Linked DNA regions of Homo sapiens: region 2 is linked to region 1. Evidence: fine-mapped expression QTL. A gene starts in region 1. The other region holds a variant in brackets. All regions are shown on one strand. Distances are between the middles of the regions. Region 1 holds the start of PAX1 (paired box 1). Region 2 overlaps XRN2 (5'-3' exoribonuclease 2).

Evidence for each region. PIP is the estimated chance that this variant, and not a neighbour inherited with it, causes the effect.
Region 2: its variant is fine-mapped to the expression of PAX1 in synovium (Steinberg 2020, PIP 0.95).

The regions. Positions count from the first base shown.
Region 1 is chr20:21,698,279-21,714,599 of GRCh38, reverse strand. PAX1 (paired box 1) reads right to left here and starts at 8,936. Exons shown (of 5, transcript NM_001257096.2): 1 at 8,602-8,936; 2 at 7,533-8,162; 3 at 5,900-6,042; 4 at 5,156-5,378; 5 at 1-129. The coding sequence starts at 8,887. The coding sequence ends at 38. It overlaps LINC01726 (long intergenic non-protein coding RNA 1726), which reads left to right and starts at 11,015. Exons shown (of 5, transcript NR_109878.1): 1 at 11,015-11,278. RefSeq lists enhancers at 1,260-1,759, 11,093-11,697, 12,909-13,514.
Region 2 is chr20:21,311,842-21,328,162 of GRCh38, reverse strand. It overlaps XRN2 (5'-3' exoribonuclease 2), which reads right to left. Exons shown (of 30, transcript NM_012255.5): 2 at 1,757-1,884; 3 at 1,562-1,673. Among named protein-coding and RNA genes, the nearest start is that of XRN2, 17 kb to the right of the region's middle. The variant CACACAG/G (reference allele first, on the strand shown) is at 6,856.

The DNA of each region.
Region 1 (16,321 bases):
CCGTTCCCTCCGGGCTCGGGTCCGGGGAGAGCTGCCCCTAGGAGGTCGAGGCCGGGATGGGCAGTCCGTGTAAGCTACTGAGGGCGTCCGGGGCCTTGCTGCCGGAGCTGGGAGGCTTCCTGTCAGCCACTGCGGGAGGAAGCACAGAGGCGTCGGATCACTACCTAGCGCCGCGCAGTGCGAGAGGCACTGGGACTCAGGACGCCTGCAGAGCGAGGTCGTGAGCGCTCAACCCTTGAAGGCTCTGGAAGAGTGAAGCAGAGACTCGCGCTCTCCAGAGACCCCAAGCTTCCGTGGGCGACCAGCCCTTCCTCTCCCGCTAGGAGAGCCACTTGCAAGGAGAGCCTTGGCAAGCGGGACTCCTCGCAAGGCCATTTGCAAACACTGACCGCTGGCCAGGTGCAATTCCCGTTGCCGTCCAACCCCCTCACCACCTGCTCAGTAAAGGAAGTGAAGGGCGCAGAGGGCTGGGAAGGTTTCAGGTCTGATGGCGACTTCCGCAGAAGGGAACAGGACTCTAACGTTGCGCGGACCCTCACCCTTTCCAAACCCCAGGCGCCCGCACAAGTGCGAAGAGCAGCCAATGCGTCGAGTCCGCTGACACCCGCGGCTCGGAGCTCGCTGTGGGCAGGGGGAAATCTTGCGGGAAATGAGCCACCAGAGATTTCCCTGGAGCGGCCTGGATTCCTCCGACGTAGGAGGCAGTTGCGCTTTAAGTGAGCGGCAGACTACGTTGTGCCCACGAGGTCCGGGGATCCAGATGCGCTCACCACTGTGGGCACAGCACGTCCTGGGACCTGTGGGCCTCCGGATTAAGTGACAGTGGGATTGCCAGATCGGGCAGTATTCTGCGCCTTACTCTATTATTTAGGGGCTTGGGAAGGGGCCCAAGTTTTGCCACCGGAAGCCAGAAAGTGACGCCACGATTGCGCAAGCCTGTTTTTCCTTTCCCAACCTTGAGCCACTCTGCTTCTCCTACACTAGGATCCACAGTTTGTTTATACCTACAGGGGCCTATTTTCAATTTTCTTTTTTCCCCAAGTCCTCCTTTAAAGGGGGAGCTTGGAGCGCCTCGATTTGAAGTAAGGGGAACTCTGGATTTTTTTTTCTCCTGCAGCTTCCCTCGCCTCAGCCTCAGGCGCAACTTGCTGTGGCTGCGCAGAGCTGGGCCAACCACCTCTGTGCAAGACACACACACACACACACACACACACACAAAAAAAAAAGAAAACACACGGTTTCGTTGAGGTTTTAAAGAGGTCTAAAGACCTTCCCAGGACAGAGCGGCCCCTCTGCTTTTCCCTGGCTCTCAGCTCTTTTTCCTAAACAAAGTTGTGGCCGCCCAGCCAACAAGTATTCAGACCTTTTCTTTCTACCGTGGACACACACTTCAAAGTGAGGACCTGTTTAGAAAACATCTGAGGAGGTGGAGGTTTCTCAGCCAAGGGACGGTTACCTTAGAGACAAGCAAGAAACTGAACTCATGAAAAATAAACACCCAGGAAGACTGCATCCCACCCTACAGGGGCGAATCCTGCTGTGTTTTTAGCCCTGTCCAAGCCATCCTTCCTCATAGGGCCCCTCCTGCCCTCCATTCCCTCCATAGGACAACAAGGGTGGGTACTTCTGGGCCCTCGGAGGCCGGGGCCTAGGTCAGGCTCATTTAATTCAGGGGCTAAGAATGGGGAGAGGCATTTTTTAAATATTCAACTGCAATTGCAGGGCACTCTGAGACCACCGCTGAGGGGAGGCACGGGTCTGGGAAGGGATCCCCGGGGCTGGGTCAAACGGAGGCCGGGGTTGCCAGCGTCCGGGTGCGACAATGCCAGCGACCTAGTGCTCTTTGACAAAGTTTACTTTTAGGATCTTCCAAGAACCAATCCCGAGGCAGAGGTAACTGGAGCGAAGCTGCAAGTTATCTTTAACAAATAAAAGCAATACATTTTCTTTGTGCGTATGCAGTATCTTATAGATTTGATTTCCAAATCTTTAGTCATTCCAGAGCCCCACGAGGAGGGACTTAAAACCCTGAGGTTTCGAGGGTCTCTGAAAACATCCTGTAAATACCAGCTGTCTTGAGGGAGCATCTGGTGGTGTCTGTCACCTAAGGGTGGGGAAGGGGAGATGGTCGTGCCCTGGCTATGAAAAGACATTTGGATGTGGGTGGAGATTCCTAGAATGTCAGCCTCTCCAAGTGAAGATTAAGCGAAACTTTTTCTATTCTTCTCAATTCCCAAAAATTAAAGTTTCCTTTCAGGGGATGGGAAATGTAAATCATGCTTTTTACCTACATAATAGGAAACCCAGACTCACTACCTTTTTAAAAAATAAGAAAAAAATGAATTATAGTATTAAATAACACAATTAATCAATTAATATCTAATTAAATGCTAAATTTTCGATTTGACATTTGATTAAGTTTCACTTAGGGTAACTGTTAAGCTGTTCATTTGCACTAATTTGGAGGACATATTGATATATATTGCACTGTGCGTGTGTGGTGTGTATGTGTTAGGTGATCAAAGGTATTTGCTTTTACTGAGCATTTATTGTATTAAATTGCTTTTCATTACACAGAAGAATTTTTTCTTACTGAAAAGGAGTTCACTAAATACTATTCTCACTATTCTTATGAATTGAACAATTGCTGATAGTAAATTGTCCTCTGGGACAGGTTTCTTTGAAGATATTAATTTCTTAAGAACTGATCAGAAAATAAAAGGCAGTGATTCTTATTATTTTTCTGTCTTTCCAAAGACCAGTTGTGTTGAGGGAATAGATCTTTGAAGTCAGCTGTTCTACCAGTAAGGAGTAAAAATCCATAACCCAAGCATGTATGTAATTCTCAGGCTATGAATATAGATAGATAATGAATGATTATTTCTACATTCCTGTTCGAACACAAACAGTTGCATGCCAGCTTGAGAAATCATTGCTAATGGTGTCCCCAAGTTATCTGATTATCTTTTATTAGAACCTTTAAAGAAGTTGGAGGACCACAAAATTAAATTATTAATTTAATAACTAGAGTAACAAATTATTGCTGTAGCTTTTAAAAACAGGTGGGATATTACATAATAGGAAACTGATATAATGGTAAAAGGGACTTATGCCAGCACCATTCAATGACCCTGTATTTCTGAAAAGGAAAGTGTCTTCTAAAGAAAATCAATCACCAGTGAGGCTTAATGTTAAAATCAGCTTCCCCGCAACTTCCACCACAAATTAAGACAGGTAGTTTAGAATTAGGAACTGTGTGTGTTACCTTTGGCTTATTATCTGCACTTTATAATTTGTGTCTAATGTAGAGCTTAAAATGCCTCCAGGGCAAAGTGGCTCTATTGAAAACAAATGCATTCCTCTGAAGACTGTGGGTCTTTTTTCTAAGTCTTCCTTCTCCTTAAGATGAACCCAGTGAAATATTTCAAATCTGTGGTTATACATTTTTAATTCAAAAGAACCTGCTTATTTAAGTGATTTGTGTAATGTGGTAAATTTTATTTTGATTTCGATTTCGACAGATAACCTCAGTTGTTGAGAAAACAGGTTGATTGGAGGCTGAGGATGAGTGAAGCGCTCATCTGCGACCCCTTAACTATCCTTAAACATAAAGCTTAAAGGAGTTCTTACTCTCAACTTTTAACATTTCCTTCACTTGGATTTTTCTATAAATGAGTAAATGATAGTATCCTATTTAAATTAAACTTAAAGTTTAAAAGAGCTCTAAATCCCAATTTTTATAAATTTTCCTTATTTGGATTTGTCTGTAACTAGGCAAGTGAACATTATCCTAATATCCCAGGATGTCTGTGCTCTAGGAAAGGTAGAAATAGAAAAAGTATTTTTCTCCCTTCATTTCACTGTTGTGGATGGCATCTTTATTTCCTTCCTGCCCCCCACCCCACCCCCACTCCCCAGGGCATGCCCTCCTATCTTATCAAGACTACTTGGAAATAGCACTTTTTGCCTGGGCAGCACCAAGGAGGATGGCCCTCCTGTCCCCTGCCTGCCCACTGCCACCTGCCACTACATCCACCTCGCTTCCAGCCCTGGACAGGTGGAGGCAAAGCAGCTAGTAAAAATCCTTTTATAATCTGGGAACTCCACGCTGTCCCCCAGGTTTGTGCCTTGTCTCTTTCTCTGCTGGGGCTGGGACGACCTGGGGTGACCCTTTCCTTTCCCAGGTTGGTTGAAGTTGCAAATTTCTGGTGCTCAGAACCTAAGCACTGGCAAGTTTGAACTTAGCAAATCAAGCCATTCCTTTTAACAACAAAGAAAATGAGGACTCAAGGGCTGGTGAGCTTTTCCCAAGTTAAAGGAAAAACTGGAACCCTCCTGGTTGTGTGAGAAGATCCCCCTCACACTGCTGACTGTCAGTGAAATACCTAAAATCTGTTCCTCGACTTTTCAGGAAGTGGACTTATGGAAAAGGAAGAGAAGGAGGAAGCGGAAAAGGAGGCAAGACTCCCAGGCACATTTTCCACAGAAAGAGAGAACCCCCCCACCCGCCCACCACCACCACCACCCACAACCACAGAAAGCTCCTGAGCCTGGAGTAAAGGACACTGATTCACATGGCCTCTACTTTCCCACAGTGTGTATTTAAGAAAAAGAATCCAAACGCCTTTTTTTCTCTCTAAGGAACCTGGAAAAAACAGATGGGCAGTGGGGCAGAGACGGGAAGGGTCTGGGGATGGAGGTTAGGTGCCACTAGCAAGTCCAACCCCACCTAAAGGGCTTAGGTGCCAGAACAGGTCTACAGAAAGGTGAGCCTGGAGGGTGCCTGCTAGACGTGTCTCTGGATGGAGAAACAGAAACCCAGAAAGAAGCAGGAACTTGGTCGAAGGTGCCAGAACCGGATCCAAACCCACGCGTCCTGTGTGCCAGAAGGACCTCCTTTCACCTCTCCCATCATAAGTGGAGGGGACAGTCTTGGGGCCAGTCTCTCTCAACCTCGGGTACCTTTATAGGGACACCTGTCAGAACTAATCTGCTCCAAGAAGCTACATGCTCAAAGGTTAACCCAGAAGAAGGGTTCATGCCCAGGACCCACCTCTTCCCCACCCGCTCTCCCTTTTCCCAGGCTCACACCCGCTCCCCAGTACCCTTCCTAACCCTTCCAGCATCCACCCGCCCCACTCCCTGCGCTCCTCACCTTCTCGGCTGGGATGCTTGAAGGTCATTGCTGCCGCGAGTTCCCCGCCATGCACAGCTACGCCGGCCCCGGGGGGCGCCAGAGGAGGACCTTGCGCAGGCGGCCACGGCGGGCCCGGGGCGAGGTAGCCGCCGCCCGGGGCGCTGTACACGCCGTGCTGGTTGGAGGCCGGGTAGGCGCAGGCGGGGAGAAAGCCGCCCACGGCAGAGAGGGTGGAGGCCGACTGTGGGGATAGAGAGGGACCGTCAGCAGCAGAAAATCCTGCCTTCTCTAGCCCACGCCATCACTGAGACGGGGGTTTTCGTCCATTATCGCTCCCCCACGTCCTGTGCCCATCCATTATCCCCATGCGAGGCCTGGCCTCTAAATTTCCTAGTCAGGACTCTTTGGCAAAGTGATTTCTAAGAATTCACTCAAACTGTTACAAATAACGATGTGAAGGGGTCATGGTATTCATATCGGGATTTAGAGAAAGAAGGCCCTTGACTGTGGATTCGTCATCTGGAGTTCCAGCTTTTTTTAGCTAAGCTATCTTGGCAAAGGCAAGTCAACCCCTCTAAAGTCAGACTCTCCCAAACTAGTACGCTTGAGGAAAGGACAGAAAGGACGCTTGCTAGCCGGCTGCCAGATACAACCATCTCTCTGCCTGGAAATTTTTTCTTTTCTTTCTCTCTCTTTTTCCCCACTTGCCCAAACCTTCTGCTTCCCTACTTAAGGTCACGGCCTCACGTGCCTCCTGGTTACCTGAGTGTATTTAATGTCTGCCTCTAAGGCAGGTTTCTCTAGCCCATTCACTGCGGGGGTGGCGGGGAAGGCCGTGCGGTTCACGCCGGCCCAGTCTTCCATCTTGGGAGAGTAAGCGGTGCCTTCGCTCCCAGCCAGGGCCCCTGCAGGAGAGAGAGGACGGATTAAAAGGTGCCTCCGAATCTGCCCTGGGCACACGTGTGGCCAACCACCCAATTTGTATCTGAAGACACGGCCAGGGGTCCCACAAAATTTGTAGGTGGCCTGACACTCCACCAGGAGGCGGCAGGGACTGGAATGTTCACCACTCCGGGTGGGGCGGAGGAAAGGCAGCCAGGCCTGCTGCCCGGTCCTCCTAGCCTTCAACCGGTTTCCCACGAACGGGAGGCTGCTGCTGAGTCAAAGCCTGGGCAGACTCGGCCAAAGCGGCCGCTCCATTGTCCAGACACGGCTCCCAGAAACTTCCGAGTTCAAAGCTACAGCAACCTCATGAAAATTGTATTGATTTCTCAACATCTGCACAAGCCTCTGGAGGGCAGGGAGACGATTCTACGAGAACTGCCTCTGGAAACGCCCAGGGTTTCCCAAAAGAAGCGTCAACATTGTTGTCCCCACGGGTCAGATAGAAGCACACAGCTGCTCCCCGGGCCCTTGTGTGTGCCAGGAACCAAGGGAAACCTCCAGATCTGCGTGCAGGCTTGGTGGGGTCACCTCCAGACCCCTGCCATTCCATGGGAAGCTTTAGCCTTAGGCTGGGTTAGAGCCACCAGGAGACACAAAGCCAGAGCAGGGCCACAGAGGCGCTGCTGCTGCTGGAGCTGAGCACTCACAGTTTCTTTCCAGCCACCACTCTTTCCTCCTAGGCTATGGTGAATTTTGCTTCTTGCCCTCCTCCTGAGTCTGATCACCTAAGAGTGTGCCATCCCCTGGCCAGCTGCTGGCAGCTGGGGAGAGCGCAAAGAAATCCAGACCCGATTCTGGCTGGTTTCTTTCCCAGCCAGGCATCAAAGTTGTTCCAAACCTCCCGCCTTCCCCATCTTCCTCGTCACCCACTTGACCTATAGTGTGTTAAGCTTTAGTTGCAGATAAATGACAAATCCTTGTGAAGGTGGCTGCAGCCCCACCAGCCATCACCGCAAACTCCAGGACCTGCAAGGCCACAGGACCTTAGAGATGTAGGCCACTCAATCGACCACAAGATCCCTTTTCCTTTAACTCAGAAGAGCCACTGGGCCTGGGAGTGGGGGACAGAACCCTTGGGAAATCGTGAAGGATTCTGAGAGCTAAAGAAAGGGTCTCAAAATTGAGCGGGTTTTTTTCCCCCTTAGATTTGGCAACAGGGGCTTGCATACTTTTTGCAAGAATGAAAAAGCACAATTTCAGGCCTCCAAATTTGTGGTCGGCGATTGCTCTTCTATTTGGGAAATATTTTCCATATTTGTCATAAAAAGTTCAAGATGTCCGAGGTCTCTTACAAAAGGCCCAGGACCCCCAGCCTCCCTGGCCAGTGTGGAGCCCTCCCCTGAGCCAGAACCGGTCCCGGGAGGAGAGCGAGTGTGAGTCCTCTCCTGCAAGCCTGCCCGCCCCAGGTTCTGCCCCTTAATAGAAGGCTACGGAGGCCGCCACAACTGACCTGTTTGCTCCATAAACGTCCGGATGCCCAGGATGTTGCTGACCGAGTGTGCCGAGGGCCATGAGCGCGGGATGCTGACGTGGCCCGCCGTGCCCGGGACCCCGGGGTGGCTGCCCATCTTGGCGCCCGTGGGCGACACGGGACTGGGGTAGGGGTACTGGTAGATGTGGTTGTAGGGCAGCGTAGGCTGCGACGGCGGCTGCTTACTTGCCTCGTACGGTCCGGGCTGCGCCAGGCTGCCGATCTTGTTGCGCAGGATGCGGCTGATGGAGCTCACCGAAGGCACATTGTACTTGTCACAGACGCCGTCGGCCAGCAGCCGGTCGCGGATCTCCCAGGCAAAGATGCCAGGGTCTCCTTGCTTGTAGTCCCGGATGTGCTTGACCACGTTGGGAGTGGTGACGCGGGGCTTGCTCCCCCCGATGGCCCCGGGCAGAATGGAGCCGGTCTCGTTGTAGCGCGCCAGGATCTTGCTCACGCAGCCGTGGGATACGCGGAGCTGCCGACTGATGTCACAGGGTCGGATGCCCAGCTGCGCCAGCTCCACAATGCGCAAGCGGATGGCGTTGGGCAGGGGGCGGCCGTTGACGAACACACCGCCCAGCTGGTTCACCTCGCCATACGTCTGCTCTGCGGATGCGCCAGACAAGAGTGAGCCGGAGGGGGAGAAAACACCCGGCGGGTTAGCCAAGGGTCCCCACGCGGAGCGAGGGACTGCACCCAGGCGCACTTCCAAAGGTGACCTGTGGGTCCCCAGACAGCTCGGAGTCCAAGGGCAAACCGCCTGGGTCTGGCTTGGAGTGGGCAAGGGCGCAGAGGAGCCGCGGAGTGGAGCGCGGCGCATTGTAGCCCTCCGTGCCCTTTCGCGACTTTTAGCGCGTCTACTTGGAACACTCCCTTCCCAGACTTGCTCAACTGCCCCCTGAAGGCTGGGGATCAGAGGAGAATGCAGCTTCTCCAGGACCCAGGACTGGGTCGCCCAGGGAAAGCGGACGAGAGGGAAGGGAGGCAGGCGGACCCGACCCACCTCATCAGCCCTCCCGAGCCCTGCCTGTCGCCCGCCCCTTACCCATAGCGAGCGGGCCGGCCAGCTGCCTGGCGCCGGGGTGGCCGGGGTGGCCGGGGCTGGGCCCGGCGCAGTCCGGGAGAGCTTGGGCGCCGCCGCCGCCGCGTGAGAGGCATAGAGGGAGGGCGCCCGAGAGCCGAGAGCCGCGGCGGCCCAGCCGCGGGCTGGAGACGCGCTGTGCGCGGCAGCGGAGCGCGCTGCCGCCCGCTCCAGGGCCTGCCGCCGCCGCTGCTGCCCCCTCCCAGGACACTCTCCACGCCCGCGACCCCAGGCCCAGGGTGAACTTCATCCGATTGGGAGAAATTCGTCTGACCGGGAGGCTGCAGCGTGCGGGAATCAATTTGACGTGTCCTCCACGTCAATCTCGGCAGTCACGCCGGAGACGCGCGAGTTGGCAGCTCATTGGTTCCCGTCACTGCGCCCCAGCGCCCCCCTCCCCGCCCTGAAACTCTACCCCCTCCTTCTATCCTCCCCCCTCGGCCCTCTTCCACCACCCCCCCGGAACCCACCCCTCTACACACACACACACACACACACACACACACACACACACACACACGTCCCAACCCCAGCTGGGCCTGGGACCTTCCACTGCTCTGAGCCCCTTTCAGCCCCCTTCCTCCTCTAGCTTTGGGAATGAGGGGGAAGTCATCTCAAATTGATTAGTGTGTTAGTACTAGTACTCGTTTTCGTTTTGGTTTTAGTTTTATTTCCGCCACCATTAATAATAAGATAGAGAATAAAAGTTTATCGTGGAAAGGTGTTTCGGGTGTGGCTCTCTCTACCTCCCCACTCCCGGGGCAGCGGCCGGGGAAGGGTGGGATCAGTACCCCAGCTGGCTGGGAGTGTCAAGGTGAGCGTCCAGCGCGGTGCAGGGCTCCTGTCAGGAAGACACAAGGCGGAACTTGTGTCCCATTCCTGGCCAGGTCCTCAATCCTTCTCTCAGGAAATCTTCACGTTTAATAGCCAACCACTCTTGGAATAGTGGGGGTGATTTCGGTGATGCGAGAGGGGCACGGTCCAAATCCTGTCTCCTACAGCCAGGCCCAGCCACCAGAACTCATCCCTCTCCAAGCAGTGACAGAAGGGGCAGGAGGCAAAAGGATCCCGATCTGCTGCTAAGGGGCGCATAGATCCGGCGCCCTCCTGTCCCCAAGCGCGACCGGCGGGAGGCCAAATGCATAGCTCCAGCTCTAGGTCTGAAGGACAAGTTCCTTTCTCCCTGGCGGTGGAATCTCGCACCACTCTATCCCAGGTGGCCTGGCCTCGTCTTTCTCCCAGCACCTGCAGCTTCAGGAAGTCTCTGTTAAACCACAGAATGGTCATTTCTCCTTCATTTAAATGAGGTTTTGCGCAGCCCTGAATTATTCACCCCTGAGATTGAACATCAACAATTTCTCTGTTTCTACCCTGCACCAAAGCAGTTCTGAACTCCCCAACCTGTGCAGCTAACTGTGTCCGGGAGCCATGCGGTGAGGGCCAAGAGGAGGAAACTCGTGGTTTTGAACATGAACTGATTTGAGGGGGTCAGGATCTGAGAGCTCTGAGGTTGAGCCCAGTAAGCACCAAAGGCATTGGGCTGAATGTGCTAGACCAGGAAGAGGGCATAGGGGAGAGAGTAGGAACAGCCGAGGTTTCTGAGACTCCCAGCGCTCCCCTGGAGGAGAGAACCCTCTTCCCCTCCCTCCTGCCCACCCCAAGGGTCTAGCTCTCCTTAGCCACCCAGAGTTGAGTATGGCGCCAGCGCGGTGACAGTGGCTGAGGAGCACATGGACCCTATCAGCCCACCCTGGGGAGCCATGGCTGCGGAGGCCCCGACCCCTTTGCCTCCGCTGTAGGGCCAGAGAGCATCCCTGGCTCCTAATCCACCTGTCTAAATGTATCTGTCAGGAGTGACTGGCTCATAATTCCTGGACTCTCTAGAGAGAGCACGCGGTGGGGCCACAGACAAGAATTACTCCTGGAAAAAGAAAAATCAGGTTTAAAAGAAGTGAACTCTTCCTCTCCGGCGGCATGAACACAGTACAGTCTCTGGCTCTGGGAGGTCCTGGAGACCTGGAGGAGGTTTGAGGGTCAGTGCACTGGCAGGAGGGTGCGAGAGTGGGAGCAGGGGAAGCTATGTAGAAGATTAGGCCTGTCCATGACAGCGTAGGTTTGGAGTAAGGAACAGGGAAAGGGAATGGTTTGGATTAAAGTGGGCACGCCTAAGCCAGGAGTTCCGCGAAGGCAGCGAAGAGAGGACTAAGCACGCACAGTATGCTCGGGGCTCCGGGGGTGCGGGGAGTGGGGACGCACCCTGCCCAGTGCTCTCCATTGCGGAATCTGCTAGCTTCGTCGGGCGCGAGATACCAAGAAAGGTTGATTTCCAGACCTTGGAGTCTCTGAGATAAAGGAACGCCACATCCCTGCCTCAGTCCAGTGGATACTCGTGATCCGGAAAAGCAGCTAAAGCCGCTTCTTCCCCCCAGTAGGTGAGGAGTCAACAGGCACACTCTAAAGACGAGGAAATAAAGCCGGTCGTGACACCGTGAGAGCTGGTTCGCCCAACTACCCTTTCAGGGGAACGTCCACCCCACCTCTGCTGCCGAGCTTGGAAAAGTGGCAAGGAGTCGCAGTCCAGGACAAAACTCCGCCCCCGTCCCCGTGAAGGCCGCCCGTGGCTGGGGGCTACTGTAGAGGGGTGAGTCTGGGGATTGCGCACGATGAGAGGGGGTGGTTCTCCCCGGTAGCAGAGTCCGCGAGCCTTCGTCTCAATCCTGGCCCCTTTCCCGCAGCCAGCTGTGCGCGATCGGGAGCACACAGCCCTCGCTGCAGCCTTCTGCACGGTCGGGCATAGGGAAAACCTTACAGTTTGTCGCCCCCTGTCGTCCCCCGGCCGGGTATCGCGGGTTCCCGAGCTGCAGGCTAGGCTTGGTGAGAGATGGCCCTAAGATGAGATTGCAGAAGGAAAAGAAACGTCTCTCCCACCTCCCAAGGAGGCAGCTTAGCCCTCTCCATGGCCCGGGGACAGCTACTAGTCAGCGCTGAGCGCACAGAGGTAAAGAGCTCGCGGATTCTGCGTTTTTGCTTGGCTGGGTTTGGCACCGTATTTCAGCGTCCTCTGGAAGCGGAGTGCAACAAAGTTCCGCTTCCAGGGTCGCGGGAGCCTGTTAGCTGAGGGCGCACTCAGAAACCTGGGGCAAAACTCCTCCGCCTGGGGCTGGACTCCTAGCAGGGCAGAGGATGGATCTGAGGGTACCCCAGAGGCTTCGGGCCCTCGCCCAGTTTTCCCAAGGCAGGAAAAGAAAGAGAGGTAAACTCTTTGCCGAAAGCGGGAGTCAAAAAGGAGGCGCGAAGGGGTGCCTGCCCTTCTGGGGACTGGGGGTTGGCGGCAAGGGGGGTTACTGATGAGAACTCCCTTGCTGCACGCCACCTGAGCCGTGAACTCAACACCCGAAACTTCACACTGCTAAACACCCAGGGGTTCGGTGACAGGGCCGCTCTTGGAGCTACAGTCGCCCCCACTTCATGTCTCATACTTGGCTTTGATTTTTGGTGGGTTTGTTTCCGGGAGTTAAAACAAGCAATAGGCCGGGATGTTCCCCGGGCCCATGCATTTCAAGGACTCCAGGAGAAACCTTAAGAAAAAGCTGATTTAAGTCCAACTTGGGCATACAGGTGCGCATTTCGGTTCTTGCGGGAAGTAACAGAGGGCAGAAAACACAGGTGGCACTCCCCGAGAGCCCTGGCCAGACTTGGGCCTAACAACGAAAGCTGGTACCCACCAGCAGCAGCCCGCAGGGGCCGCAGGGCCGGGATCCCGGGTCTTCCTCACGACGTCCTAGCCTCAGGCCTTAATAGGCCCGCTTTCGCTCCTGCATGAGTCCTGGCTCTGCTCAGGACCTGCGCTTTTACTGTGTTTTTAAGAGTTTTAAGAGCACTGAGCCATGAGTCCTGTGGTTCAAAATCAAAGTCAAATTGAGTCTCTTAATTTTCTTCTTAAATTTACGTTTGAAGGGGAAAATAAAAAAGCAGCTCGGGCTAAAAACGCACTTTATGCATCAGGTTATAGTACCAAGCTCCACACGTACACATGCCCGTAGTTTTGCAAAAAAGATCCGCCACATCATACTTAAAAATAAGAAGAAAATTGACGAAAAGAGAAATGAGGAGCTGCTAGCTGCAAAGAAACTATGGGAAGAAGAGCTGAGCCAGATCGGGGAGCTGCAAACCCTGGGGGAATGCGAACAACTAACAAACCAAAAGCTGGCTTGTGTAACAACACAACGAAACTCCGCGGGGAATGACTGCGGCGGTGGAAGGAGGGAGCGAGGAAGGGGAGAGGAAGACTAGATTCTGAATTGGCGCCTGTGAGCGCCGCCTCGGAGCGCAAGGTCAGAGCGTCCTCCCAACAGAGTGGATCCTCAAGGACGAGGTGGGGAGTGCGTTTTGCACAGAACCTGCCTCTCCTGACTAGGACACACAGACTCTCCAGACCCCAAATGGAAGGTGTTGAGGACCCTGCCAACTGGCATTAAAACAGAGCCCCCAAGAGCGAGAAATAACGTCCTTGGCTTCGCGGACCCATTCCCGCGGCTTATTTTCCTTTGGCCTGCTGCTGACCAAGGCGGTCGTAAAGTTGGTTCTTTGCCTAGGCCTCCATGATGTTCGCTACCCTGGAAATGTTTATTATCGAAAATGAGTCGGGTCAGCTGTGGTGGATGGAGCACCGTTTCCGCTGACACTGGCCACTACCAGCGAGCAACGTCCTTGGCAATGCATGGCGAGAGAAGCCAGGACAACTTTTTTCATTTTCCTAAAGTGAAATGAATAAAAAAGAATAGGTGAACATTTTCAATGTGATTAACAAAACGGTGGAAGACCAGTGCTCCTCAATTCTGTTCAGAGATGTAAGAAAAAAGCAAATTAGAAAACAGATTTGCTGTGAAACCTGCACTAGAAATAAATAGGGGGAAATTGAGTATTGGCAACGAAGATCTGAGATACTTTCTACCCTGCAATGCAGGGATCTGACTACTACATTAATAACATTTACTTTGGAGTAGATATATTTTAAACGTGGAATTTGGCTGATAAAAATAAACTACAGAGGGTTGGTGCCCTTTGTAGGAAGAAACGGTTTCTAGAGCCTTCAGGAGGATCTGGCATTCTTGCCATTCTTGTGTGTATATTCTCACTAGCCCCAAATCGAGTTCTGCAGATTGCTATTATGTCTCTCTCTTTCCCTGGCAATGAGCATGTCAAATAAGCCTCAATTTCCTCTTATATAAAATGACCTCTACTGTGCAATTAGATCTGATTTAATTTCATTTCATCAACATTAATGCCTGCAGAAATTTCCAGACATGGGTCAAAATTCCACCTTCGCAGTGAGCACTCAAAAAATGTTTAAGTGACAGTATTAAGTCTAAATGTCACTAATAAAATGGAAATTATTTGGGAAACTTGAAATGTCCATGTGGCATATCTCCCAGGTATTTGGAAAAGGGGAGATCTAAGAGTAGCCACAGGGGTACAAAGGATAGAAATGGTATTTGTGAAGGGAGGCGAGAGGGAGGTGGTGTAAATGCCTGCAGGATTGTTCACAAAGGCAGCAGTAAGAAGGGTCTCCTGCTGTCTAGAGGATACCCCTGCAGATCTGACTAGCTCAGCTGCAAATATTGACGCGTGTGAGACATCCACACTGGCCCAGCCTAATTGGAACCAGCTTGAAGTGTGTTGCCCTTGAATGCAAGGGTAGTGCTTTGGAAATTCTGTTCCTACATGGTAATAGAACCTGAATAATGGACAAGGAAGGTGAAGGACCCATGTGGAGCCCTTTGTCTTGATTAAAGACAATGTCAAGCCAGTCCTTGTTTGCCTGGACTTGTCTAGTTTCTTATTAAAGATCAGTCCTCTCCAATCTTCAGCACACACCCACACAAAAACATAATTCAAGCCCTGAAAATGAGATAGGTAGAAGGTTTGCTAAAGGAACGCTAACACCTGCAGCTACTGCAGGTGTTAAAACCAAAGTACTGCTCCCATCTTCAGTTATCCATTTCTTCCATCATTAAAATTATGATTAGAATTAGATGTTAAGGCTTTTATTTTTTATATCCAGCATACTATTTAGAAACACCGCTATTTTGGAATAAAGACTTTGTTACACGGTTTTGTAAACTCAGAAGTCTTGAAGTCCTTTATAATTGAATATTCTCATGAAAGTAGGATCTCCTTCATGTTCATTTAATTTATCATATGTATATCACTGTTATTTCCACCCACCTTGGCATAAATCATTTTCCTTGTTAGGAATCAAGGATCTTTTATGATGAGCTTTCTTTAAGGCACAAATGGATTCTTTTTACTTGTGAGTAACTTTTTACTGTCTGCCTAGCCAATCACTTTTAACTAATTATTGTTCTACATATTTTTGTCTCTAATTGCTATGACATCCCAATGCTTGCTACATATACATACATACATACATACGTACATGCATACATACACACACAAAAAAAATGCACACACTCACACATATAATATGTCCGCAGCTTGGTGATGGTTTTAATTTTCTTCTCTCCCCCCCCTTGTGTACGGACTATGAAGTTTTACTGAAGACCTGTAATGCCTCCGGTTTTGATTTAATGTTTTGGAGTTTGTGATCTCATTGCCTGGCATGGAAAATATTAGACAGGGTCTGTAGATTTTATGCAGGAAAAGAGCCGCATCACCACCGCGGGTGAGTGCTTCTCCCCAGTCCTGCAATAAGCCGACTGAACAGTCATTTAGAGCCGATGTTCAGTTCTGTGCCGTTGAATAGACACCACTTCAACCAGTCCTGCTTTTGTAAAGGGTTCTTTAAGAAACACTGAATCTCAACTGGTGCTGCATATTGAATTCACCAAAGGGAGACTTAGAAGGCCCTGATGCCTGGGACCCATCCCCAGAGATTCCGATTGAATTTTTCTGGGCTGTGGCCTGGACACTGGGATTTTTAAGAGCTGCCCAGGTGATTCTAATGCGTATTGAAGTTGGAGAATCTGTTTTAGGAGAAACTGGGAAGAGAAGGGCTGGTGTAACATGATACTTCTTGCTTCACAAGTGTTTTCCTGGATGCCAGAGGAAAGGCGGGTGGCTCACTGGTCTCACCTCTGTGAACACCTTACAGTGGCTCATGAAAATATATTTAAATCCATGTCTAAAACAGCCTTCCTGGGCATTGTCACACTATGTCACTTTGACCCCTCCTGGAAACAGGGAGAACACTGCCTTCCCAGGCTGGGTTGGCTGCCTGACGTTTGTCATCTTTAAAGATCCCTTTGTCTTCCTGCCCTCACACAGGTGACCCCAGCCTCCTGCTTAGGTATAACCGTCCGTACAGCTTCACTGTACAGTAAGCTGGAGGGGTTGGGGAGCAGCAGAGAGTCAGCAACTGACTTAGCCTCTCGGGCTGACAGATCAAATTTGGGAGAGGTGGCAATGAATCATAAATGCTACCCAGTGAGGGAGTCCGAATGATTTCATTGTCCGAGGAGGTGGGAGTTGAACTCTACTCTTAGCACTGTTAAATAGCACAGTTCTCTAGATATGTAAGGTCACAGAGCAATCATAACCCTCAAGCTTCTGATGCCATCTGAGAAATACAGAATCTTCTGAAGGGCTCAGTGTAGTTTGTATCTTTATGACTAGTGGGGTTGTTAACATTATTTCATTGCCATGCAGCTTAGAACGGGGGTGA
Region 2 (16,321 bases), 390 kb after region 1:
AGACATTCTCTATGTCCACACCTAAAAGGAAGAATGGTGTCCAAATGGGATCCACAATGTCTCATAAAAGCAACAGAAAACTATTTCTTTATGTGAAGAATCTCGGTGCACTTCTATTTCCCACAATAAGGTTTATAATTTTTCTGTCTTTTCAATAAGGCATAGCAGTTAGAAAGAAATAATGCCTTAACCAGAAGTACTTTTAAATCACTCTAACCAAATGCAATTTCAGTGGAAAAGCCCAAATAAAGTGAACTAGATTGTAAGATTTTCGAAGTTACTGAACTGAGTTTTGGGGTGGGAAGAAACTGTGAAATATCCTGTTTACATCTAAATGTAAGTTATTTAATATTCTCTTTAAACAATTCCCTTTTCTGTAGAATGAGACCATCTAATGAAGCCCTCTCAAGTACAAAGTTCTGTATCTACATTTATATATAAACAAAAAAATGTGTGTATAAACATGTACACACACATGCATATAAATGTGTACATATTTTATACTTGATGTAGCAGAAAGAACACACTGGAGTAAAGCTAAAGATTTCTTCAAAAAAAATTAGCTGAATATAAACTGAAATGTGCTCTAAACAAGACATATTCCTTTTCTTTTTACTCTTTACTCCATTCTAACTGCAACTTAGCAAGTTATCAGGTAGCTAAGGTTTTTCACTGAGTAAGACGAATCTCACAGAAAAGTTAATCTTCTTGGATTCAAAGTTCTCTGAATTTCCAAAATCATCCCATTAGCCGCTAGGATGCACTAAAATTAAAAGAATCTACTTGCAGATAGCTAAATAAATTTAGAGTTATATCTTACCTTACCCCCCTAATAGAGTTTGCTGGTCATTTATAAAAGGAGCTACTTGGTATTATTATCATAGGTCAGTAACTTACTCCTCTCAAATCATTTTCATGACTACTCATTGCCTATAGGATACAGTCCAAACTCCAGACGGTAAGGCTTTCTCAAGCTTTTGCTATACTTCCCTTCTCAATTCAAACCACCTGTAGTTGCCAAAACATGTCAGTGTGGTCAAAGGCACGGAAAGTGTGTTTACCTGCCACATTTGAGAAATCTGGAAGGTCCTCCCTCCCCAAACCCTGTCCCATCCATCTCCCACCACCACCCACCAATCTCCCAATTATTCTTCATTGTTAAAGAAATGGAACAAAAGTCACCTCTTCTCTATATCCTAACTTCCTTAGTAGCACTGACTTCCTCTTCCCTCAACACCCTGCATGTATTATCTAGTGCTTATAATGCCTATAAATAATTAAGCTCACCCATTTATCTATGCCTCCTTCCCTTTGACAGTAAGCCAAAAGTTCAAAAGCAAGGGCAGTCGCCAACATCCCCAGTATTTCACAGTACTGAGCACAAAATAAGCACAAAACACACACACAAAAAAACATCTGAATGAATGACTGAAGGATGAGGCTTTCTTTCTCAAGTTCATCACTGTCAACATTTTTCATTATTTAGCTGACTTTCATTCTAGACACTGGTAACACAGCAAAAAAAAACAAAATGGAGGCTTCTAATTATTTTAGCACTTACCACTCCATCTATTGCCATGTAGAGAAGTCTTCTTGGTCTTACAATACTGAAAAGTCTGTCAATGTACTCAAAAATTGCAACCATCATTTCATCTTCATTTTTTGGTGCTGGTCTATAATGACAACCAAACAATGTAATATAATATAATGTTTCCTCTGTGATTTGCTATATCAGTGACAAAAATGGGTTACGTACTTGTCTTCAGGATGAGTACAGGGATGGATGATTCCATTCATATCCAAATACAGATTATCAAACTCCACATCATTTGGATTAGGTTTACTGGCATCAACTGGAATCTTTACACCATTGCATTCTTTTGGCTATGAGGAAGTGATAATTAATAGTAGTTTGATTGTTCAAGTCTAAAAATGACAGATCCTAGGCTCAATATGAACTTGTGTTTCATTTCTGAACTGGAAATAAAACACTTCAAGTAACCTTTAAATTATAATAAGTTATTTTATTCCTTAAAGCAAACTGAAGCAGATATTTTATCTGTAGAAAGTGGATGGCTTCTAACACAAGTTATTTTTGACAATGTAGATGTTTAGAAAATTCACAAATCATTCAGGTTGTTCAAGTGAGAAATCATGGGAGTCATCTTAAAATTCATTTCCCTCACCACTCACATCAGTAAGTCCTGTCAAAGTAACGTAAAAAATGCTTACCTACTTCATCTCCTTTCATTCCCACCACCATGAACAACAAGAAGTTACCATCTCTAACCTAAAAGAGCACAACAACCTTCATCTAGTCTACCCCACCTCTAGACTCTCTGGTCTCCAGCTCACTTTCTGCATTGTCAGAGTTCTCTTTCTAAAACATAAAAGTGTACGTCCTTAATCTTACCTAATTTTTCTAATGATTCTCACAGCAGGTGTTTATCAATGAGCCTGGAGCCTTCCTAGTCTCCTATCCTGCCATACTATTGTTGAAGCCCACTCACTCTCTTGTAAGTTCCTGGAAAATGCCTTTTGATCTCTCAATGCCGTCACATGATGCTTCTTTCAGAACACCTTCTTCCTCCCTTGTCAACACCCACTTCCTGAAAAATTACTAATTTCCAGGGTCTACACTCAAATCAAATGTCACTCACTTTATAACACCTTGTACATATCTCCCAAGAAATTGTTCCTTCTGAATTTCCTCATAATTTTGCTTATTCACTTGTAGCACTTCCACTGTTTTACAGTTAGTCAATCTACCCCAGCTACATTGAGTTCCTCAAAAGATAAGGGCTTACTCACTGCCAGAGATACTCAATTATGTTTTTGTAAATGTTACTTCCTTTGTTTTTCTCTTCCAGAGCCTCAGCAAGAGATTAAGACTATGAGATCTAATTTTTACTATTAACAATAAAAGTCACTTAAAAAAATAACAGTTCCTCAAGCACATATAAAGCATCACTTGTAACAGCAAAAACTGTAAGCAATTTAAAAGCCCATCATGTACATACTACATCATGGATGAAGCTCAAAAACATTAGGTTAAGTGAAAGAAGCCAGTCATGAAGTACCAAGTACTATACAATCCCATTTATATGAAAAGTCTAAAATAGACATGTTTGCAAATATAAAAAGTAGATTAATGGTTGCTTCAGGTGAGGGTGGAGACAGGGGAGGGAGATGGGTAGCAACTGCTAATTACTTTTGAGAATGAAGACCCTCTAAAATCAGATAATAGTGATGATTGCACAGCTCTGTAAATATACTAAAAACCACTGAATCATACACTTTCAGCAGGTCAATTTCATGATACACAAATTATATCTCAATAAAGCTGTTAGAAATAGAAATTTAAAATCAGGTATGGTGGTATGTGCGGGTAGTCTCAGCTACTTCGGAAGCTGAGGTGAGAGGATTGCTTGAGGCCAGGAGTTCAAGGCTGCCGTGAGCTATGATCACACCACTGTATGCCAGCCTGGGCGACAGAGTAAGATCTCATCTCTTAAACAAGTAAACAGATCAACTTAGAGGAAAGGAAACAAGCCCATCAGGAAAAGAATAAGCTCATATAACATCCATATACTTGTGAGATGCAAGTGAGATTGGAAGAGCTAGAGCTAGATGGTCACAAACATACTAGGCCAAAAAAAAAAAAAGAACATATACAGTATACCACTTACAGAAAGTTATGAATAAATAAAACAGCATTCAATATTGCTCAGGGACGAATACATATGCAATGAAAGCATGGTGAAAAGCAAAGGAATGATAAACACCAACTTCAGGATATTGACTGTCTTTGAGAAGGAATCACGGGAATGCAACTGGGCTTCAAGTTGCACTTAGAATTGGAGGGAAAGAATAACAAAAGGGATTTAAGGCAGAACAGAGAAGAAGCTACTAGACAATCTTCTGTACATACATGCTGTGAATCAAGAAAAAAAGGCTTGATCAGGAACAGTGAGTGGAATAAGTGGTAAAGAAAAAAGCAGGTCAATTCTTGGGGGGGTGGGTGGAGTCTATAGAAAAAGATAATTTGATGACCCCAAAATTAAAACAAACTCTATGATGGCAAGAGGCTCTCTGCCTCTTCATCTAACCTCTACACCCCAAAGTCCACATCCACCTTCATCCTGTCCAACGGCCCACCACACTCAGGAAAATCAAAACTCATTCTTTGTGCCCTCCAGGAAAAAAATCAGTAAATATTTCAGACCTGCTGGCCATATGATCTCAGCTGCAACAACTAATATCTGCCTTTGAAGAGTGAAAGCAACCATAAACAACACAACATGAATGGACATGGCTGTATTCCAATAAAACCTGACTCACAAAAACAGGACGTCACCAGCAGGCTAATCCCTGCCCTAGTGCCTAGCACAAGAAAAGGCACAGCTCTTCATATGGAGTGGAGCTACATGAGAATTTCTACTTCTACTACCTAGGAAAAAAAATAAAGTACGGAGTAGGTGGGTCCTAATTTTGAGAAAAGAGCTCCAGGTATTCCCAGTAAGAAAACTGAATATATTTTCCCCTCAAGAGTACTGTAGACATGTCCAACACACTTATTATGTAACTTTAGAATTCCTTTCATCAAGAGAAGACTCTGATGCTCAACAAAGAACTGACTCCTCAAGAACCTTGTCCAATGCTATACCAACACGTTTCCTGTTCAGTTAAAGAGAGATCCTTAATCAAAGGGCAGCTAAAAGGAGAGCCACTCTGAACCCTAAAACCAATGTATTTCAAGTAATGACTTTTAATTATTTTTTGGATTCCCCAGATGACAGACTGAACACACACTGCAGTCTTCCCTTTCTACCCCAAGACCACATGAAAGACCAAACAAACAAACAAACAAATCTACTGTATAACTACGGCGGAAAACCAGAATTTGTGGCTGAGAAATGATGAGTGATACCTAAAATATGGGCAACCAATAGCCCTAACTGAAGATGGAGTGCAGTACCTCCAACATGTGAGAAGAGATATGCTGCCAAAGGTGGGCTAACACAAGAGGGCTCTAGGCCCAGAGAGGAGGCTCAAGGGACAGCTTCTGGATGATTCATCAGCGCCAGTCACAGCAACAGCCAGATGGGTCAACTCCTGCCCTCTCCTCTCCCTTCACCCACCCAGGTCCCATGTGAACCAGGCAACTTGAGACAGAAGCTCCCAGAGAATGTGAAGGCTTAGGTTAGAAAGGCAGTGCAGTGCCCTGGCTGAGTAACAATGCCTAGGAAGGAACAGAGAGCACCCCTACCAGAAGGCTGGCAGTCAAGGTAGCTCTGCCTAGTAGGAAGCCTGCTCCTTCGTGACTTCATGGATAAAGCAGGGGATATATTTATTCCAAATAGGCAGTTGGGATATCATTATATTTGTGCATGAAAATGCCAAGAAATCAAGATAAAGAAGGTATTTAAAGAAGTAAAGATAATACAAATATACAAATAATGTTTGTATAAATATACATTACACAGGTTTTGAAGTATATCCCTAAAATGAATTTCATGCCAACCCACTGTTCCAGTCAACCTTATGAGGAGAAACCACCACCAATAGCTCAGTAGATGCATTGTTTTTGTTTAAACCTACAAAGGATTTAACAGGAACATTAGAAAAACCATGAATCATGTCTGAGGTTCCAGGGCAACAGGAGTATCCCACTGATGGAAGTCATATGCCAAACCATACAACTCAGTTTCAGATTTCCCTTAAAGAAGCTTGGAACTATGAAAAGAAATTCAAACCATGGGTGATATTTTAGAGAGAAATGGCCAAAGGGCTAATGAAAAATTGAAATTACAGTATTTTGGCTTAAAAATTCAACCTATAATAAGACAATTTTAACACTTATGGGTGATTAGTATTTTTTCAAGTTGTACGTGTGTTAGATCTTCATTTTTATACGACGTTAGTGAATGAGGACTAATAATTACCACTAGCATTTACGGAGCACTTAACGTGATAAGCACTGTTACAAGGGCTTTTACTCATGGATTATTCCATTCTATCCTCACAACAACCTTGTGAGGTCTGGAGTATCCCACTTACAATTAAGAACACAAATGCTTAGAGAGGTTAAGTGGCTTTTCCAAAGTCACACTACTATAGATTCAGGAACTAGGATTTAAAACCATGACTCAGAGATGGTACCTTAACCAGTATGTTAGACTAATTAATTGTAATTTCACTAGATTCAAAGTGATGTGTACCAAGGTCTATATCAGGTACTACAGAGGATACAAAATAGGCAAGGTGTGTGACATTGATCATCATTTGCTAAATAAAGTCTTATCAGAAGATTTTATTCTAACATGACAGCATGAAGAGCTTCAACGACCTGCTCCCCAGTGAAACTGGTAAATATTACTTTTAAAACAAAAACATTTAAAGCCTTTGGAAATGATCCTGAGGGCAAACAGCAAGCAAATCAAGAAAACCTGTAAAAATTTTAGAACAAAATTCATTTGCAAAAGTGCACAGTAAAGTTTAAAAAACAAACAAAAAAAAGCTGTTCTCAAGAACAGTGAAAGTAGAATGAGGCCCAGTGGCTCATGCCTGTAATCAGCATTTTGGGAGGCTGAAGCGGGAGAATCACTTGCACCCAGGAGTTCAAGGCCAGCCTGGGGAACATAAGAGTCCTGGAGCCCCATCAAGAATCAGGAAGGTACAGTGGCATGTACCTGTAGTCCCAGCTACCTAGGAGATTAAGGCAGAGGTCTGCATGAGCCCAGGAGTTGGAAACTACAGTGAGCTGATTGTGCCACTACTGCACTATAGCCTAGGTGACAAAATGAGACCCTACACACACACACACACACACACACACACACACACACACACACA[CACACAG/G]CCAGGCACAGTGGCTCATAACTATAATCAGAGCAATTCGGGACACCGAGACAGAGCACTTGAGCCCAGGAGTTTGGGATCAGCCTAGGCAATATGGTGAAACCTCATCTCTACAAAAAATTAGCCAGGTGTGATAGCATACCTGTAATCCCAGCTTACTCAGGAGGCTGAGGTGGGAGAATCACCTGAGCCCCGGAAGTTGAGGATGCAGTGGGCCAAGATCGCACTACTGCACTCCAGCCTGGGCAACAGAGTGAGACCCTGTCTCAAATACAAAGAAACAAACCAAAACAGTGCAAGCTATGGTGAAGAGCAACTGGGAGGAGACTAATAGATCTAATGAAGATACAGGCCTGGACTACAGGCTAGTTTGCAGAAGAAAACTCGGGATTAAGATGGCTGGGAGGAGCCCTCCTGGTGTTAGCACAAATACCAAACACTGACGTCAGAAACTAATTCCTGGAAAGATCTACAATTTAGGAGTTCGAGATCAGCCTGGCCAACATGGTGAAACCCCGTCTCTACTAAAAATACAAAAAATTAGCCAGGTGTGGTGGTGCATGCCTGTAGCCCCAGCTACTCGGGAGGCTGAGGCAGGAGAATCGCTTGAACCCGGGAGATGGAGGTTACAGTGAGCCAAGATCACGCCACTGCACTCCAACCTGGGTGACAGCAAGACTCCATCTCAAAAATAAATAAATAAGGCCGGGCGTGGTGGCTCACGCCTGTAATCCCAGCACTTTGGGAGGCCAAGTCAGGCCGATCACGATGTCAGGAGATCGAGACCATCCTGGCTAGCACGCTGAAACCCTGTCTCTACTAAAAATACAAAAAATTAGCCGGATGTGGTGGCAGGCGCCCGTAGTGCCAGCTACTCAGGAGGCTGAGGCAGGAGAATGGCGTGAACCCGGGAGGTGGAGCTTGCAGTAAGCCGAGATCGTGCCACTGCACTCCAGCCTGGGTGACACAGCAAGACTCCGTCTCAAAATAAATAAATAAATAAATACATAAATAAATAAATACATAAATAAATAAATGATGCCAATAGGTAGTGGGATAACATAAAAAGCAGTAAAGAAGTGGAAACAAACAAACAACAACAAAAGAACCCTGTCAACCAAGAATTCTCAGTCCAGAAAAGCTATAGTGCAAAACTGGGGTGACATAAAGACTCAGATCAATAAAAAGCTGAGAGAATTATTGCTAACAGACCACACTGTCAAAAACTACTAAACGAAGTTCTTCAAGCTATAAAGTTACAAAAAGTTTACTAAAGTTACTAAAGCAAGTGACTCTAGATGGTAATTCAAGTCCATGCAAACAATAAGCACAAGTATATTTTCCCTCCTTTCTTCTCTTAATTGAATTAAAAAGCAATTGTATAAATATTACATAGTATAATGTTGAGCTTATAAGGCAGAATGTAATATATGTGTAATATATTTGCCCTAATAGCAAAAAGGGGTGGATGGAAACAAAGTTGCAGTGGGCTAAGGAAATGGCTACAGACGGTAAAGTAACTCTTAAAAAAATGTATTGTTGGATTATGTCAATATATGTAATATATATAACAATAATATACAAAGGGGGGATGGGAACTGAACTATATAGCAGTAAAGTTCAATAAATTTTAGCATGTATTACTGAAACTAAGCAAGTATAAATCTGAATTTGATTCTAGCAAGATACATAGGGTAAGCTCTAGAACAATGACTTTGAAAAAATATATAGTGGAAAAAATTACTAATGAATTTAGAATCCTTCTAGTAACTGGCCACTGAATAAGAAAAGAAAAAAATTTGAATGCTATATTAGAAAATATCCTCTCATTGCAAAAGAAAGCACAAAGGAGAAATAGAGAAAAATGACATGAGACATACAAAAAACAAAAAGTAAAATGTAACTCTATCAATAATTACATTAAAATGTGAATGGATCAAACAATCCAACAAAAAGGTAGCTTGTCAAAGTGGATTTTAAAAACATGATCTAACTCTGCGTTATCTACAGGAGATACACTTGAGATTCAAAGACCCAAAAGAGTAAAAGTAAATGGATGAGAAAAGATAATCATGCAGACAGCAACCACAAGAAAACTGGAGTGGCTATACTGATATCAGATAAAACAGACTAAAACAAATAAAAAAATGTTACTGGAGGTAAAGAGGGTCATTTTATAACGATAAAAAGTAAATCCATCAAGAAAAAGATATAACAATTAAAAATACAGGTGCACCTAATAACAGCACCAAAATACACAAAACAAGACATATGGCAATTCAACAATGATAGCTGGAGACTTCAATACTCCCCCTTCAATAATAGAACAAAACAGAAGATCAACATGAAAACAGATAATTTGAACAACACTATCAACAGAGACCTAACAGATATTTCTAGCACATTACACTTAACAGAATATACATTCTCAGGTGTACACGAAATATGCTCTCAAAAAAAGTAAAAGCATAGAAATAATACAAAGTATACACTCTGACCACAATGAAATAAAATTAGAAACCATTAAGAGAAAAAAAAATTGGCAAATTCACAAATATGTGGAAATTAAACAACACAGTCCAAAATAACCAAGGGATCTAGGAAGAAATCAAACGGGAAACCAGAAACTACTTTGGGATCAATACAAATGAAGACACAATATACAAAATGTTATGGAATACATATAAAGCAGTGTTCACATGGAAATTTATAGTTGCAAATGCTTAGATTAAGAAATATCTCTTCAGAAGTATTTGGCTCTGAAAAAGTTAATTAAAAAAAAAATCTCAAATCAATTACCTAACTTTCCACCTTAAGATACCAAAAGAGAGTAAACTAAACCTAAAGCAAGCAGAAAGAATAAAAGATGAGAGCAGAAATTAATGAAACGAAAATTTAAAAATAGAGAAAAATCAATGAAACCAACAAAGCTAGTTGTTTAAAAAGGTCAACAAAAAATGACAAACCTTCAGCTAGTCTGATGAAAGAAAAAAGAGGGAAGACTCAAGTTACTAGAATCAGAGACGAGAGACAGGACATTACTGCTAACCTTATAAAAACAAAAAGGATTATAAAGAAATACCATGAATAGTCATACACCAACAAATTAGATAACTTAGATGAAATGGACAAATTACTAGAAAGACACAAACTACCAAAAATGATTCAAGAAAGACATAAACTGCATAAACCCATAACAAGTTAAAGCAATTAAATCAGTAATCCGCAAACTACCCAAAAGAAAAGTCAAGTGTAAATGGCTTCACTGCTGAATTGCATCAGACATTCAAAAGAAGAATTTGTACGAATTCTTCATGAACTCTTCCCAACAATTCCGAACACATTTTATTGGGCCAATATGACCAATACCAAGACCACACAAAAACATAAAAGAAAAAACTGCAGACCAGCATCTCTTATGAGCATGGATGCAAAAATCCTCAACAAAATACAGTCAGCCCTCCGTATCTGTCAATTCTACATCTGTGGAATAGATCAATCATGGATCAAAAATATTCAGGAAAAAAATGGACAGTTGCGTTGGTACTCAACATGTGCAGACCTTTTCTTGTCATTATTCCCTAAATGGTACAGTATAACAACTATTCACACAGCATTTACATTGTACCAGGTATTTAAGTAACCCAGAGACTATTTAAAATATACGAGAAGATGTGCATAGATTATATGCAAATATTACACCATTATATATCAGAGATTTGAGCCTCCGTTGATTTCGGCATCCACAGGAGGTCCTGGAACCAATCCCTCACAGATACTGCAAGACGACTGGACTAGCAAACAGAAGCCAGCAATATATTAAAATATTATACACCATGACCAAGTAGGATTTATCCTAGAAATGCAAAGTTAGTTGAACATCCAAAAACCAATCAATTAAACACATCATATTAACAGATTGCAAAGCAAAATGACACGATCATCTTCATATAGAAAAAGCGTTCGAAAAATCCAACACTTTCATGATTAAAAAAAAAAATACTCATCTAGAAATAGAAGGGAAATTCTCAACATAAAGGGCATCTGCAAAAACAAAAACAAACAAACAAAAAAATAACCTAACAGTTAACATCATACTTGGTGGTCAAAGCCTAAATGCTTTCCCTCTAAAATGAGGAATAAGACAAAGATGCCTGCTCTTGCCACTTCTATTCTGGAGGTTCCAGCCAGGGCAATTAGGCAGGAAAAGGAAAAGGTATTGATATTAGAAAAAAAAGAAATTAAACTATATTTGCACATGACATGATTGTGTATATAGAAAATCCTAAGGGATCCACTAGAAAATTATTACGATATATGACTTCAGCAAGGTTATAGGATACAAAATCAATATATAAAAATCAATTACATTTCTATACACTTGCAATGAGTATTCCAAAAATAAAGTTAAAACATTCTCACAATAGTATCAAAAAACTAGGGCTAAATCTAACAAAGAAATACGAAATTTATATTTTGAAAACTACAAAACACTGTTGACAGAAATCAAAATAGTTCTAAACAAATAACATCCCATATTTATGGAACACAAGACTCAACATTAAGATGACAATACTCCCCAAACTGATTGACAAATTCAACGTGCTCTGTAATCAACAGTAATCAAGACAGTGCGGTACTGGGACAAGGATAAACATTTAGATCAATGGAATGGAATTGAGTCCAGAAATAAATGCACACAGCTATTATTAGCTGATTTTTGATAAGGTGTCAAGATCATTTAATGGGGAAAAGAACAGTCTTCAACAAATGGTGTAGGACAACTAGATAGCCAATGCAAGAAAGTGAAGCTGGACTATTACTTCACACCTTAACTCAACCCAAACAACTCAAAATGGATCATGAACCTACATTTAAGAGCTAAAGCTATAAAACTCTTCCGAAAAACAGGTGTAAATATTTGTGACCTTGAATTTGGCAATGGAATTCTTAGATATGCCATCAAAAGCACAAACGATAAAAGAAAAAAGCAGATGAACTGCACTTCATCATCAAAATTTTAAACTTTTTTGTTTGTTTGTTTTTTGAGACTGAGTTTTGCTCTTGTTGCCCAGGCTGGAGTGCAATGGCACAATCTTGGCTCACTGCAACCTCCGCCTCCTGGGTTCAAGCCATTCTCCTGCCCCAGCCTCCTGAGTAGCTGGGATTACAGGCGCCCACCACCACACCCGGCTAATTTTCTGTATTTTCAGTAGAGACGGGGTTTCACCATGTTGGCCAGGCTGGTCTCAAACTCCTGTCCTCAAGTGATCTGCCCACCTCAGCCTCCCAAAGTGCTGCGATTACAAGCGTGAGTCACCACAACCGGACAAAATTTTAAACTTTTATTCTTCAAAGGACACCATCAAGAAAGTGGAAAGACAATCCACAGAATGTGGGAAAATATTTGCAAATCATTTATCTTATAAGGGACTTATATTCAGAATACATTCTTTAAAACTCTTACACTTCAATAGGACAACCCAATTTTAAAAGGGCAAAGAGGCCGGGTATGATGGCTCACGCCTGTAATCCCAACACTTTGGGAGGCTGAGGGAGGTGGATCATCTGAGCTCAGGAGTTGATTCGAGACCAGCCTGGGCAATATGGCAAAACCCTGTCTCAACCCAAAATACAAAAAGTTAGCCAGGCATGGTGGTGCCTGCCTGTAGTCCCAGCTACTCAGGAGGCTGAGGTGGGAGGATAACGTGACCCTGGGAGATGGAGGTTGCAGTGAGCTGAGATTGTGCCACTGCCCTCCAGCCCGGGTAACAAGAGTGAAACCCTGTCTCAAAAAAAAGGGGGAAGAGGAGACAAAGAACCTAAATAGACATTTCTCCAAAAGATACACAGATGGCCAGTAAGCACATGAAAAGATGCTCAACACGACTAGTCATCAGAAAATGCAAATCAAAACCACAGGAGATACCACGTCACACACCCACTAGAATGGCTAAAGCCAAGTCAGATAACAAGTGTTGGCAAGTGTGGCATAGTTCTTTGGCTGGCCTTGGACTAACTCAGTTCCTTTTCTTGCTCATAGTTCTCAAAAGTGACTGTAGAATGTGATGGTAATGCAATATCCTGAAATAGGGAAGAACTGCCTGAAAATGTCCAGCCTTGCTCCTGTCCCTCCCAGGAATTTAACATCTTGAGTGAGGGCGCAACTGCCCGGGACAAGGTGGGCTTTGTTCCTTTCACCCCTGGAAGCAGGACATTTTTTAAAGCATTAGCTCAGTGTGTCACATAAACCCTGAGGTGTATAACCCAGAGTGGGCTGCCTTTCAGGGTTCCTCTCCCGCCATGTAAGTGTGGCCCCTGCAGTCAAGACTCTATCTGCCCCGGGCATGTTTCCTGAGCCATGGGGGACCCATTCAGAATGAATCCTAGGCTTCTGTTGTCCTTTACTGTCTATTTGTAAATAATAAACCCTCTTCATGTAACATTGTACATGGATGTCCTTGTCTCCTCAGACTCAGACAAGTTGGTAAGCAACACACAGTAAACCTGCTTCACAGCAAAAATGTGGAAAAATTGGAACCCTCATACACTACTGGTGGGAATATAAAATAGTGCAATCACTTGGGGCTAGGAGTTCAAGACCAGTAGGCAACACAGAGAAACCCCATCTCTTAAAAAAAAAAAAAGTTAGCCAAGCATAGTGGCACATGCCTATAGTCCTAGCTATTCAGGAGACTGAGGCAGGAGAATCGCTTGAACCCAGGAGTTCAAGGCTGCAGTGAGCTATGATCATGCCATTGCACTCCAGCCTGGGCAACAGAGCGAGAACCTGGGAAAGTGGCTGGCAGTTCTTCAAATGATTAAACCATATAATCCAGCAACTCTACGCCTAGGTATACACCCAAGAAAAACGAAAACATATCCACATAGAAACATAACATGAATGTTTAAAACAGCATTATTCATAATAGCCAAAACATAGAAACTGTTCAAATGTTTATCAACAGACAAATGGATGAACAAAATGTGGTATATCCATACAATGGCACAGTATTTGGCCATAAGCAAATAATAAAGTACTGCGACATGCTACAACATGGGTGAACTTTGAAAACATAATATTAAGTGAAAGCAGCCAGCCAGAAACGACCATATTCTATAGATTCCTCTCATGTGAAAGTCCAGACTAGGAAAAATCTATATAGACATAAAGTAGATTAGTGGTTGCTTAAGGCTGGGAGAAAAGGAGACAGCAGTTAGAGGGACAACAGCTAAAGGGTACAAGTTTCTTTTCAAGGTGATTAAAATGTTCTAAAATTGACTGTGGTGATGGATGCACACATTTGTGAAAATACTAAAAATCACTGAGTTGTACACTTTAAATGGGTGAATTTTATTGTATGCAAATCATATCTCAACAAAGCTGTTTAAAGAATGTGGTAACCAGCTCCAAAGAAATAATCATATTAGAGAAAATAGAATGTAGGGTCAAGGATAAATGTCCACCTTATGATTTTTCTCCCTTCCCTCAGAGTGATGCCTATCACAAAAGTAGTACTCAATGAAATGGAAGAGAGAAAAGAGGCAGTGGAGGAAACCTGGATTTCATTACATGAGAACAGTAAGACCACACTGTACACTACAACGCAGTATTACCAAGAGTTAGACTCAAAAACATCTCTGCCTTTACTTGGACACATAAACTACTAAACATTAATTTACCAAATAAAATTCTGAAATCAGATTTTCCAAATAGTTGCCATTTAGCAAATGCTTCTGTAACAGGATTGTAACTGGTATTAATACATCTAATCCACACAACCACCCTCTGTGATACATACATAGCCAATCTTCATTATTCATGAATCCCATATTTGCAAATATGTCTACTCACTGAAATTTATTTTTAACCCCAAAATTAATAATCATGGTACTTTCGCAGTCATTTGTGGACATGCACAGAGCAGCGAAAAATTGAGTCACCCAACATACACATTCCCAGCTGGCAACAAATGAGGACACGCAGCCTTCTGCTTTCAGCCCTTGCACAGAGATGACCAGAGGGGGAAACTGTAGGGAGCAGCACAGTGTAGCGTAGTGTGTTAACTTACACCAAATTTGGCCTGAGGATGGCTCCTTACTGATTCTTCACTTGAAGAACTGCAATATTACTTACATAAAGTCCACTAAGGAAAAGCCTAACTTAGGAGCATACTTCTGTAACAAAAAGCAGAGTCTCCGCCAATCGCAGCAGTCGAGCTTCAGTCAATCACAGGTTGCCAACTTATCTGGCCATGTTTAAATAAGCCAAAAGATTAAGCTGTTTCTGTACCTCACTTCTGTTTTCAAGAGCTCCCCAAACCTCTTCTGGTTCTGAGGGCCACTCAACTGGCAAACTGTTCATTGCTCAATTGAACTGTGTTATTTAATTTATCTAGGGCCCAGGCATGGTGGCTCACGCCTCTAATCCCAGCACTTTGGGAGGCTGAGGCAGGCGGATCGCCTGAGGTCAGGAGTTCAAGACCAGCTTAGCCAACGTGGTGAAACCTCTACTAAAAATACAAAAATTAGCCAGGCGTCATGGTGCACACTGGTTGTCCCAGTTATTTGGGAGGCTGAGGAAGAATGGCTTGAACCCAGGAGGCAGAGGTTGCAGTGAGCAGAGATTGCACCACTGCACTCCAGCCTGGGCAACAGAGCAAGACTCTGTCTTCAAAAAAAAAAAAAAAAAAAAAAAATCTTGGGGTTTGGTTTTAACAAGAAGCTCTGGCTCTCTAGAGTTTAGGCATTTAAGTCATTTTCCGATGGTCAGAAAGCTGATAAATGGAGGACTGCATGAGCCAAGCAGTTAAAGTATATGAAGTGAAGAAGCTGATGACTGAATCAGTAAAGAGTTCTTAATAAGTGAGCAAAGGGAATAAAATGAAATCATAAAAACACAACCTAAGGCCGGGCACGGTGGCTCACACCTGTAATTCCAGGAAGTCAGGAGATAGAGACCATCCTGGCTAACACGGTGAAACCCTGTCTCTACTAAAAAAAAATAAATAAATACAAAAACTTAGCTGGGCATGGTGGCAGGCGCCTGTAGTCCCAGCTACTCGGGAGGCTGAGGCAGGAGAATGGCGTGAGCCTGGGAGGCAGAGCTTGCAGTGAGCTGAGATCGCGCCACTGCACTCCAGCCTGGGCAACACAGTGAAACTCCTCTCAAAAAGACAAAAAAAAACACAACCTAAAAGAAGGCATAAGACTTAAGAAACTGAAACAATGAACAGATGAGACAGAAAACAAATAGTAAGATGACAGATTTAAATCTAACCATATCAATAATCTTTTTTTGTCTTTTGAGACAGAGGCTCGCTCTGTCGCCCAGGCTGGAGTGCAGTGGAACAATCTCAGCTCACTACAATCTCAGTATCCCAGGATCAAGTGATTTTGTGCCTCAGCCTCCTGAGTAGCTGGGTTTATAGGTGTTGTACCACTATGCCCAGCTAATTTT